Linked DNA regions of Homo sapiens. The protein of the gene in region 2 interacts with the protein of the main gene of each other region in a biochemical or structural test. Each region holds a gene or a part of one and is shown on either strand. Other genes may lie near its edges.

What was found.
Region 1: the proteins of CSRP3 (region 2) and NRAP form a complex in vitro, tested with the Homo sapiens proteins (one study listed by IntAct).
Region 3: the proteins of CSRP3 (region 2) and MYF6 form a complex in vitro, tested with the Homo sapiens proteins (one study listed by BioGRID).

The regions. Positions count from the first base shown.
Region 1 is NC_000010.11:113,615,440-113,619,191, forward strand, and holds part of NRAP (nebulin-related-anchoring protein), read right to left. Parts: intron 2,115-3,752; coding exon 2,016-2,114; intron 378-2,015; coding exon 273-377; intron 1-272. UniProt on the Homo sapiens protein: May be involved in anchoring the terminal actin filaments in the myofibril to the membrane and in transmitting tension from the myofibrils to the extracellular matrix.
Region 2 is NC_000011.10:19,200,652-19,204,403, forward strand, and holds the start of CSRP3 (cysteine and glycine-rich protein 3), read right to left. Parts: upstream 1,333-3,752; 5' UTR 1,303-1,332; intron 1-1,302. UniProt on the Homo sapiens protein: Positive regulator of myogenesis. Acts as a cofactor for myogenic bHLH transcription factors such as MYOD1, and probably MYOG and MYF6.
Region 3 is NC_000012.12:80,705,558-80,709,309, forward strand, and holds the start of MYF6 (myogenic factor 6), read left to right. Parts: upstream 1-2,076; 5' UTR 2,077-2,162; coding exon 2,163-2,681; intron 2,682-2,966; coding exon 2,967-3,057; intron 3,058-3,284; coding exon 3,285-3,403; 3' UTR 3,404-3,752. UniProt on the Homo sapiens protein: Involved in muscle differentiation (myogenic factor). Induces fibroblasts to differentiate into myoblasts. Probable sequence specific DNA-binding protein.

The DNA.
Region 1 (3,752 bases), on a different chromosome or scaffold from region 2:
CAAACCAATGCTCTTTGAACTAGGCAGAGAATGTCCCCAGATCATTCTTTCAAATGAGCTGGACTCTTCTGCAGGACCAGCTACATAATGTGCAGGGCCTAGTGCAGATGAAAATGTGGGGCCCCTTGTTCAAAAATATCACATATTTCAAGGTGGTGATGGCAGAACATGAAACCAGCTCAGGGGCTTCTGAGCACAGGGCATTGTGTGCCTGCCCATGACCAGCCCCGCTCTCCCGTCATTAAAACTCGTGCCCCTTGGGTCAGCCTCACCTCACTGATATTCATGGCATTCAGCTTGGCCAGCAGGACTTCAGGGAGGTCAGCAGTCGGTGTGTAATGATGCTTTATGTTTTCTCCTTGTTCCCTGTATAATCTCTGTGGATGGAAGGAGGTTTTGCATGAAACCTAGACCCCATTCCATGCAGCCATCAGCCAGGTTACGCTTCAAGAGTCCAAGCTGCTGCAGCTGCCACCTCCTCATAGAGACATGATTTCGGGCACCCTGCCTCCACCCAGATTTTACAGCTAGCACGGTGACACGCATGTCATTTCCAAGCTCTGCTTCCTAGCTCAGAACATGACAAGCTGAAGCATTCCCCTCAGTGAACGCCCCACTCATAGTAAACTGCTGAGATGGGTGTCAAATGAGAAAACGAGGTTTACTTAACACCTAGTAATAATTTGGTGATTAACTATCAGCTATGAGATGGCATCAAGATACAGAAGGCGAGAAAGAAGATGGCTCTTGTACAGGTGAGGTTTTCTCCTCCCTATCTCAATCCTCCTCCGTTCCCCCGTCTCAAATATTCTTCCCCTAAGACATGTCTCCTGGGTGGATCTGGGACTCTATTTACCCAGAACTCTGACCCAAGCTTCGGATACCCTGATAGTTAATAATGACACATGCAGTTGGCATCAGCCACCAGAGAAAGTTTCCAAACAGGGTTTTTCCATCCCAAATCTTATCAGATGTATCCAAGTTTCTACGTATCACAGCAGTGCCCCCTAGAGTTGGCTAGGATAAGGAAGAAACAGGTATTGTTTTTCTTCATACAAAAGTTCTTGTTTGACCATCTGTGTTTCTCAGAATTCAGTTTGATTCTGATGGGCTGATTATGAAGAAGTTATAAATTCCTAAATCCATAAGCTTGTAAATCATCCCATCCCAGATTCTGACAGGCACTCAGGCTGTTTCAGAATGCCTGTCAAATAAAGCGCAACCAGAATCATTTGCTCAATTGGGAAACAAGGAAGAGAATTTTGAAAGCTATGCCCCCAAGGTTTGTAAATTTTCCCCATGGAAAGTTGAATGGTTTGAAGGTATTTAAAAGCCAGGTTTGCCCTGCACAAAGATCCATGGGTATCTCTTAGCAGAATCAGCCAAACAGGGTTAATCTACATCACAAAGTGTTTTTTTTCAGCACCTCATCGTTCACTTTAGTCTCCAGCCGACCCTGCAACCCTGCACCCCAGCCAACCTTTCCCACAGAGGGAAAAGGGTCAAATCTTGGTTTTGCATCATAAAGGAGTATGGGAAATGGCTTGAAAGTTAGTCTGATGTATATAAATCAGACCCAAATCATGTTCAAAGTCTCTGGGAAATTCATAGAGCAACAATTGCTGCCCTTGGGTCCTAAAGAGCTCTAAGCACAGCGTCAGGATTCCAATTACCAAGAATTTCACCCAGTTCTGAAAACAACACTTTCAGGCAAAAGGAGAGGAGAAAACAGCCTCACCACGAATGAATCGGTGAGACATGCAAATGGGAAGGAGGGAGAGCATCTTGGGGCAGTGGGGTGGTGGAGCCCCACTTGGCATTCTAAGTGCAGTAACACCCCCATTTGCATCCTAATGAGGAAGCACCCCCCGCTAAGGGAGCCTCTGCAAAGGACAGGGAGCGCCTTCATCCTTAGGACAACAGAAGGAGCAAACCCAAGAACCCCTCCGCTTCAATCGCAGTGTTGAAAGAAGAGCCCACTCTTAGAGTCATAATGTATATACATTATCACTTACATCCACTGCTTGGGTATAACTAATTCTGGCCTGGACCATCTCCGGAGTGTCTTTAATACTGGTAAACTTCAAAGCATCTGGATGCTGACGGTACTTCTTCTGTTGAGCAGAAAAAGATCAAAGCTGTGAATTTTGTGCTGCTCTTTCATGCCATTTGAAAGAGAAAATCATAGGTTGCTTGAGATTAGAGTGAATTTGTGAACACAATTATTATTCTGCTTCCTCCATCTTTATATCCTAGGTGCCTTCAGGTTAATATTTGTTTCAATTTAAGAATAACCTCATGTCAATTAACATTAAAGTATTTCTACCTGGTGCAAAGAAAACATCTCAAAATTAGGTTATACTAGTAAAATACTGTAGGATACACACTTAGAAAAGGATTCTTTTTATAGGCTTCAAATACTTTGTCGCAGTTGTTTACATATCTTAGTTTGGGTCTTCTAAGCAAGAAAGAGCATTCAGAGTTACATTTATCCATTTAAGCTTTCTATTTTCCTTCCACAAAAAAACACTGACAGACATTATTGCAGTCAAAACCCTCACATTCAGCAGCCCGCGAGCGTATGCCGTCCAGTCACATTAGAGCCTAGTTCAGTTAACACAGGAAATAATTCTTTAAAATATTACAATAACAGGAAAAAGGGTGCTATTATTCAAAGGAGTCATCACACAGTTTGAAAGACACTGAAGCAAAAAAAAAAAAAAATCACAAAAATGCTGGCAAAGACCTAGATACCCAATTTTGAAGTATTCTGAAAATCTGTTTAAATTAATTTCTTTTTTAAAAATCAAGGTACATTTTTAGGAGACAGAAACCATAATTACTTCAATGAGATCATAGAGTTTATGCTTTCCAAAGCAGAATAATTGTCTTAAACACACTCTTCTTTATCTGGTTGGATTTTTGTACACTGGGTTGTCTTAAGACAACACAAATCAATAGCCAGCTAAATCTAGCTCACCACCTGTTTCTGTAAATAAAGTTTTATTGGAACATGGCCATGCTCATTCACTTACGTGCTGCCTATGGCCATTTTCCAGCTAGTTGTGACAGAGGCAATATGACCTACAAAGCCAAAACTATTTACTATCTGGTCCTTCACAGAAAAGGCTTTCTGACCTCTGCTTTGGATCGTAGGTGTGCGTGTGCATTTGTGGCTCTTTCAACAGTGCCGGGCATTCTCTCTGGAATTAAGAAGGTGGCCCAGGCCGAGTGCAGTGGCTCACGCCTGTAGCCCAGCACTTTGGGAGGCTGAGGAGGGCGAATCACCTGAAATCAGGAGTTTGAGACCAGCCTGGGCAACATGGTGAAACCCCGTCTCTACTAAAAATACAAGAATTAGCTGGGTGTGGTGGTGGGTGCCTGTCATCTCAGCTACTCAAGAGGCTGAGGTAGGAGAATCGCTTGAACCCAGGAGGCGGAGGTTGCAGTAAGCCAAGATCACTCCACTGCACTCCAGCCTGGTTAACAGAACAAGACTCCATCTCAAAAATAAATAAGTAAAATAAAAGAAGGTGGCCCAATTCGACAGTAACTTGTAAATGTGACAGCCTAAAATGAGATGGGGGGGAAAGTTGCTGAAAGATGCCTTGCCTTACTTACTAAACTTTGAGGACTAGTATGAGACAAGCCCATCAAAGAGGATAAGCAAATTTGTTGAGAAAGTATGCAAAATGAGGTGGCTAACTAACAACTGTGGGATACATGGTCCCCTGAAGATCCCTTGGCTGCCA
Region 2 (3,752 bases):
GCCTGGGCTCATTGCCACTGACCACAAACGACTGAGTTGTTCAGAAAGGGAACAAAGCCAAGTCATAAGACTCCCTCACATTTTCTGGATCATAAAGCAGTTCTACATGCATTGTGATGAATTGTATGTACCCAGCATTGAGATTTAATCCCAGATGTAAACTGAGGACACAGGCCATCCCCAATTTCCCACTCTTCGTGCTGTTCACTTATACCCTTCCCTGCATAGAGCTGCCTCTACCTCCCTCCAGCCCTGACATAGGAGATGGTCCATACATGCTTATTAAATTACATTGAATCGTATTGCAGAGACAAGGTTCCTCAGACCAGTAACTCAACTCCTCCTTCTTGGAGGAGTCACCACCTTGGCTCAGGAACAGGGCAGAAATTAGAGTCGGCAGCTTGGATCTTTCAGCAGCATTTCCACTCAGACCATTGCTTAAAACCTCTTCTTATTCTCAATCACACCTATGTCTGTCATTCACTGGGATATTTTAAAAAGTCCTTGACTAAAACCTAGAGGAAACAGTGGGAATCCTAACCACTGGATAAATTATCCTCCCATTTAATAGAGCTTTTAATATATTTCAACATAGCAATGTCTTTTTGGGGTCCAGTTTTGATTAATTTCAAAAGATTAAAAGCAAACTTGTTGCTGAATATCTTTGGGATACAAAAGTCTATTTAAAATCAACAAGCCCAAAATCTCAGTCATTCACCACGACCTTTTGAATAACACCATTCCAGGTAAATTGAGCATGGGAAAGCTGTCTTATATATTGCATCTAGTACAATCGCTTATCGCTTTGTATCTGTGCAGTACTTTACAGTTTGGAAAAAATGTCGCCAATTTGTATTGATCCTTGCAGAAGAGGAGACCAAGCCCCTGAGGGCAGGAACCTTCTCAAAGTCTGTCATCCATGAATTATATGGTGGTTGTAAGACGAGAAGGTCAGCAGACTTTCCATTATTTCCTCCCGCTTTCCAGTTGTTCCAACTAAGATGACAGGAAATGTAATTCCACCACGTAAGTAGTTTTATAATGAGGATAATTCTTTACTCATTTATCTGCCTATGAGGTCCCTTAAGCCCCCTAAATATTAACCATCCTTGCAGGAATTTTTTAATACCTGCTAGATCCACACCAGAGTCAAGTACAACTTGAGCCTCCTTGCACAGAACCAGAGAGGGTGCTGGCACTTGAGACGTAAAATGTGCTCTTACTCTATGGGACCCTTTATAGTCCAAACCAGCCACAGAACCAACCCACCTCCAGCTCAAATGTCTGCCTTGCTCCACTCACCTGCCTGTGTGGACTCCGTTCAGCTCAACTGAGTCTGAGGGGCTCTTGTCCTCTTTAAATATATGAAGGCTGTCACCAGCCTTGGCCTGCTGGGGGAAGGGCAGGAGGGAGGCCAAGGGAGAGGGTGAATGAGACGTGAGTAACACAACTGCTATCAGGGGCTGAAAATAGACTGTGACCAAAGCCCTGAGTTTTGTCTCCCCCAACCCCCCAGCCAGCTGTGAGCCTCTTGGAGAACCGAATCACTTGGGTTCTATTTGCACTGCCAATTGCTTATGGCACCAAGGGATCAATTTATGAAGTGTGTCATTTCTGATCAAGTGGTTGGAACAGGAACAAGAGCTAAGGGTTTAACATCAAAAATCATTTCTCCAGGCCCCCACCCCACTGACCTTCCTGGAAATCATTGCAGGGTACCTGCAAATGAGTCATGTGCCATATCTGGGAGCCTCTGGAACTTAGAGCCACAGGTCACCACACTCGTGAAGAGAACTCAGAGCTAAAAATAAGGGTGATGGGTGTCTGAAACGATACTTAGATAATCTCTTCAAAGAAGCTTGGGAGAAAAAAGGTTGGCACATCACTTGGGACCTGTCACTCCATCTATCCTAGGAAACGAAGTTTTCTCTAAAAAGTTTTGATTTACTTTGTTATTATCCTTTTCTATTTAAGAATTTGATACAGCAGTGCATATTTATCATCATCACATTATATTTATAACATCTTGATATGTCTCTGTAGACCCATATTTTCTTTGGAGGTCTAATTTTTCTTTGTCTGGAATTCACACCGTTTAAATTTGATCAAGCACCAGGGACTGATATAAATTATGGCATTGAAAAGCTGACAAGAGGTTCAGAGATGTGAAGACCAATTCTTCATGTTATAGATGAGGAAACTGAGGCACCAAGCCCCTTCCACTCATGTTGACCCGGATGTTGAGGTAAGGTACATGTAGAACCCAACCGGGAGGTTCATGATCCAGCCTTCACATCAGATATTAGCCCTTTGGTTACCTGCCCACAAAGCAATTGTTGAAGGATAGAATATTTCACTGTCAAGAAGGTTGCAGTAATTTCACAAAGACGGCCGTGGCATAGCCTCCTATGAGATATCCGTGGTCTGTGTTTTCACTAAATGGCATCTTCATCATAAAGACGAGGCAATCACGAGGATTTTAGAAAGTTAAAGCTAGAAAGGACTTTAGAAATCGTCTAGGATAGTGGCTTTTGTTTGTTTGTTTGTTTGTTTGTTTAGAGAAATGGTCCCGTTCTGTTGCCTAAGCTGGAGTACAGTGGCATGATCACAGCTCACTGCAGCCTCGATCTTTTGGGCTCAAGCAATCCTCCTGTCTCAGCCTCCTGAGTAGCTGGGACTATAGGCGCACACCAGCACGCCTGGCTAATTTTTTTGTAGGGATGTGGTTTCACCATTTTGCCTAGGCTGGTCTCAAACTTTGGGGTCAAGTGATCTGCCCACCTCGGCCTCTCAATGTGCTGAGATTACAGGCTTGAGTCACTGAAACTGGTCAACCAATAGTAGCTTTAAAATTTTTTTTGTGTGTGTGTTTGCATCAGAATACTTTTTTCTGTAGATAAGAGGAAAATCAGTATATAAAGCAGATAAAAGAGGAGCTTCCAGTGATGATGAGCATTTTTTCATGTGTCTTTTGGCTGCATAAATGTCTTCTTTTGAGAAGTGTCTGTTCCTATCCTTCGCCCACTTGTTGATGGGGTTGTCTGTTTTTTTTTCTTGTAAATTTGTTTGAGTTCATTGTAGATTCTGGATATTAGCCCTTTGTCAGATGAGTAGATTGCAAAAATTTTCTCCCATTTTTGTAGGTTGCCTGTTCACTCTGATGGTAGTTTCTTTTGCTGTGCAGAAGCTCTTTAGTTTAATTAGATCCCATTTGTCAATTTTGGTTTTGTTGCCATTGCTTTTGGTGTTTTAGACATGAAGTCCTTGCCCATGCCTATGTCCTGAATGGTATTGCCTAGGTTTTCTTCTAGGGTTTTTATGGTTTTAGGTCTGAGAAATGCAAATCAAAACCACGATGAGATACCATCTCACACCAGTTAGAATGGCGATCATTAAAAAGTCAGGAAACAGTTGCTGGAGAGGATGTGGAGAAATAGGAACACTTTTACACTGTTGGTGGGACTGTAAACTAGTTCAACCATTGTGGAAGTCAGTGTGGTGATTCCTCAGGGATCTAGAACTAGAAATACCATTTGACCCAGCCATCCCATTACTGGGTATATACCCAAAGGATTATAAATCATGCTGCTATAAAGACACATGCACACTTATGTTTACTGTGGCACTATTCACAATAGCAAAGACTTGGAACCAACCCAAATGCCCAACAATGATAGACTGGATTAAGAAAATGTGGCACATATACACCATGGAATACTATGCAGCCATAAAAAATGATGAGTTCATGTCCT
Region 3 (3,752 bases), on a different chromosome or scaffold from region 2:
AAAATTAGTCATTTTTATCTTAATGTTCTTAATGATTTTTATCACAATAATCTTAGTTAACTTTTCAAATTGTCTTCACATTTACAAGAGACAACATAAAGTGTGGTTAAGAGCACAAGCTAATTTTCTATAATAGATGTTAGATTATACCCTGAGTTGCTGAAACTTTCAATCTGCAGTTTTAATTGCTGACTTGAGCAACCAAGAAACTGGCGAAAATAGAAAAAAAAAAGTCACAGAAGAAGTATTGGCCTCTTGCAACTCTTCTCTCTCCTTCTTACCATTCCAAAAATCTAAGAATAGTATTAAACTTGATAAGGAATAAAAACAGCCAAAAATATCAAAGCTTAACATCCAGTCTGTGGCTCAATAGAAACTGTGAAGAATCATCTTCTAGAATAGGCGACTTGATTAGCTAATTTCTAAATTATCTGACAGTTGATTTCCTGCATTATCTTCACTCTATTCATTTTTTAAAATAAAGTCATAAAGAACACAGCTTATAATCATTACTGCTTGGGGTAGAGCAATAAGATTTTATGTTCCCACATAGTTTTTGAGGCACTGACTATAAAGACCAAAACCAAGGTCAACTGACATCCCAAAGGCCAGTTACAGCTAGGAAGTCTTTCTAGAGCTCTAGGAGGAAAGGTGAAAGGAAGGGAAAGAACAACAAAACAGAGAGAGGGAAGAAAAAGAAAAACCTCTCCAACAGCTATGCTTTATTTCATTCATAGGAATGAGTCTTTGCCCTAACATGGCTTTATACTACAAATGATAACTACTGTTCATCAAGCAGCTATGTGCTATGTGTTTCACATGCATGGTATCATTTGATTGAATCCTCACTAAAACTGTAAGGAAACCACTATCATCTTGAAGACATCAAGATCTAGTACTTACCCATGGATATATACATAGAAATTAACCTTGCTAGGACTTGATAGTTCTTTGGAATCTAGGGCCCCCGCACTTGACCTTCATATTGTACTGTCTCCCGAAGAACAATACATGTATCTTGTGGACCATGGGCAAGCTGCAATTTAAAAAATGCTGTTTCCTTGCTCGTGCCTTGGTTGCTAACCTTTCTCACTTAAATCCTATCAAACAACTTATTTGGAGTCAATGGATAGTGAGAATGCAAAAGAAAAAGTGGTGAGCACACAGTGTGCAGAACTGGAATCATAAGAGAGGCACCTTGGAGGGGGCCACAAGTAAATGCTGAAATATCAAGTAGCTGTGGTGTGAGTCTTGTTTTCACTAAAACTATTTTTAAGGAGGAGTTACTACATGTATTGTAACCCCATCCTCTATCCCACTCCCTACCTCATATGTAATACTGCTCCACAAATGGAAGGGTACAGAATTCAGATCCTGGTTGCCCCTCTCCCCAAAGGAAAAAAAAAAAAAAAAGATAGTCAAGGACGGTCTCTATGGAAGGACCCAGAGAATCATTTCATCCAGTATCATGGGATGTGAGCACCCTTCAGCAACCCCCTCCATTTCCCAAATCATCTTGCAGCCTTAGTAAAAGAGAGGAAAGAGATTTACCTGCTTCTATTGAGGTTGAAGCCTGAAAGTCATGTATAACCTTTGAAGCACTGTAATGGTTTTAATCACAGGAATAGCATCTTTTTGAGAGGCAGGAGAGAGAAAGGAGCTGAACCACTCTGCAAATATTAACCCGGCTATTTTGGAGCAATGGCTATTGCCTTTGAAATCTTTCATCATGGGTCTATACTTAGAATTCAGATGAGCGCAGGGGGAGGGGAATAGGGCAATGTTAATCCCCAGTTGTTTTGAAGTTGTCCTGTAAGCAGGTTAGTATCTAAACTGCCCAAAATGGAAGGGTTCAATGCTTTGTTTAAGTTATGTGATTCTCTCTGTGTAACCTGGTCTGCACATAGATTGTCACAACACTCTGGGAGGTGACACTTCTCAGTTTTCTTTCAAACTAGATGTTCTAGAGAGCACTAGCTGCAATCACATTGGGAGACTGATGCTCCATGACAGCTAAAAGTTGGATTGAGTTTCAGGAGCTACTATATATAAAGCTGGGTCGACTTATGTCACTGCACTAATTAAATGCCATCTGGGTGGTTCCTCTGGGTTTTTGAGTCCATCACCCAGTTCAGATCGAGTCAGAGGCCAAGGAGGAGAACATGATGATGGACCTTTTTGAAACTGGCTCCTATTTCTTCTACTTGGATGGGGAAAATGTTACTCTGCAGCCATTAGAAGTGGCAGAAGGCTCTCCTTTGTATCCAGGGAGTGATGGTACCTTGTCCCCCTGCCAGGACCAAATGCCCCCGGAAGCGGGGAGCGACAGCAGCGGAGAGGAACATGTCCTGGCGCCCCCGGGCCTGCAGCCTCCACACTGCCCCGGCCAGTGTCTGATCTGGGCTTGCAAGACCTGCAAGAGAAAATCTGCCCCCACTGACCGGCGAAAAGCCGCCACCCTGCGCGAAAGGAGGAGGCTAAAGAAAATCAACGAGGCCTTCGAGGCACTGAAGCGGCGAACTGTGGCCAACCCCAACCAGAGGCTGCCCAAGGTGGAGATTCTGCGGAGCGCCATCAGCTATATTGAGCGGCTGCAGGACCTGCTGCACCGGCTGGATCAGCAGGAGAAGATGCAGGAGCTGGGGGTGGACCCCTTCAGCTACAGACCCAAACAAGAAAATGTAAGCCTAGATGCTGCCGGGGCAGGGAAATGCGAAGGCTGATTAAACGCCTTCCGCGGGGCCTTAACCTCCAGCTGCTTGGTCTTTTTTCCCTTCCCCCTTTCTCGCCCGCCCCTCCCGCTCCGTCTCTAATGAACCCCCAGTGACCCAAGAAGACCGGGTGCTTGCAATAGGCAGGAAATGCGTACCCGGCCCGAGGAAGCAGGAAAGCCGCCCCCCACCCCACCCCAACCCCGGAACCGATGTTTCTTTCCTAATCTGCCGCTGCCTTGGTTTTCCCTCCAGCTTGAGGGTGCGGATTTCCTGCGCACCTGCAGCTCCCAGTGGCCAAGTGTTTCCGATCATTCCAGGGGGCTCGTGATAACGGCTAAGGAAGGTAAAGTAAAAGGGCTCTGGGCCGCACCAGAGAAAATCCGGGAGGTGGATAGGATGCTTGGGCCGAGAGGGCTCGAAGCGAGAGCAGGGACGCGCCCTGCGAAAAGGGCGCTCTTTGCGCGCCGGGACCAGGCCTTTCCTCGCTGCCAAAGCGGCCTCGCGCGGGGCGCGGAGCTGCTTCGTGTTCCTTCTTTGGGTGCTATGTTTGTGTGTTGTTTTTTCGCTCAGGAGGAGCAAGTATTGATTCGTCAGCCTCGAGTAGCCTTCGATGCCTTTCTTCCATCGTGGACAGTATTTCCTCGGAGGAACGCAAACTCCCCTGCGTGGAGGAAGTGGTGGAGAAGTAACTGAGCCTGCGCTTGAGACCTTCTCCACGCAGCAGGAAGATCCCACCGACCCTTCCTGGCCTAATCCTTTAGATTAGGTCACATTACATTAACATTTAGGAACCCAGACCGAAAAGTTGCTGAAAGGGAAGGAGACACATTCACAAAGAAACGTTGCGAAAATTGCGAAATCTGTTGTGCATGCTCAAATGAAAACGCCTTTCGGCTTTGGGCTTTTATTTTTTTGGAACTGCGAGTGGCTTAGGTCTAGCCTCATTTTGTTTTTGTTTGGTTGGTTTTATACTATATTAACTTTTATTACGGTGATCCTTTTGTGCCATGTTCAAAAGAAGTTCATTCCTGTCTAAAG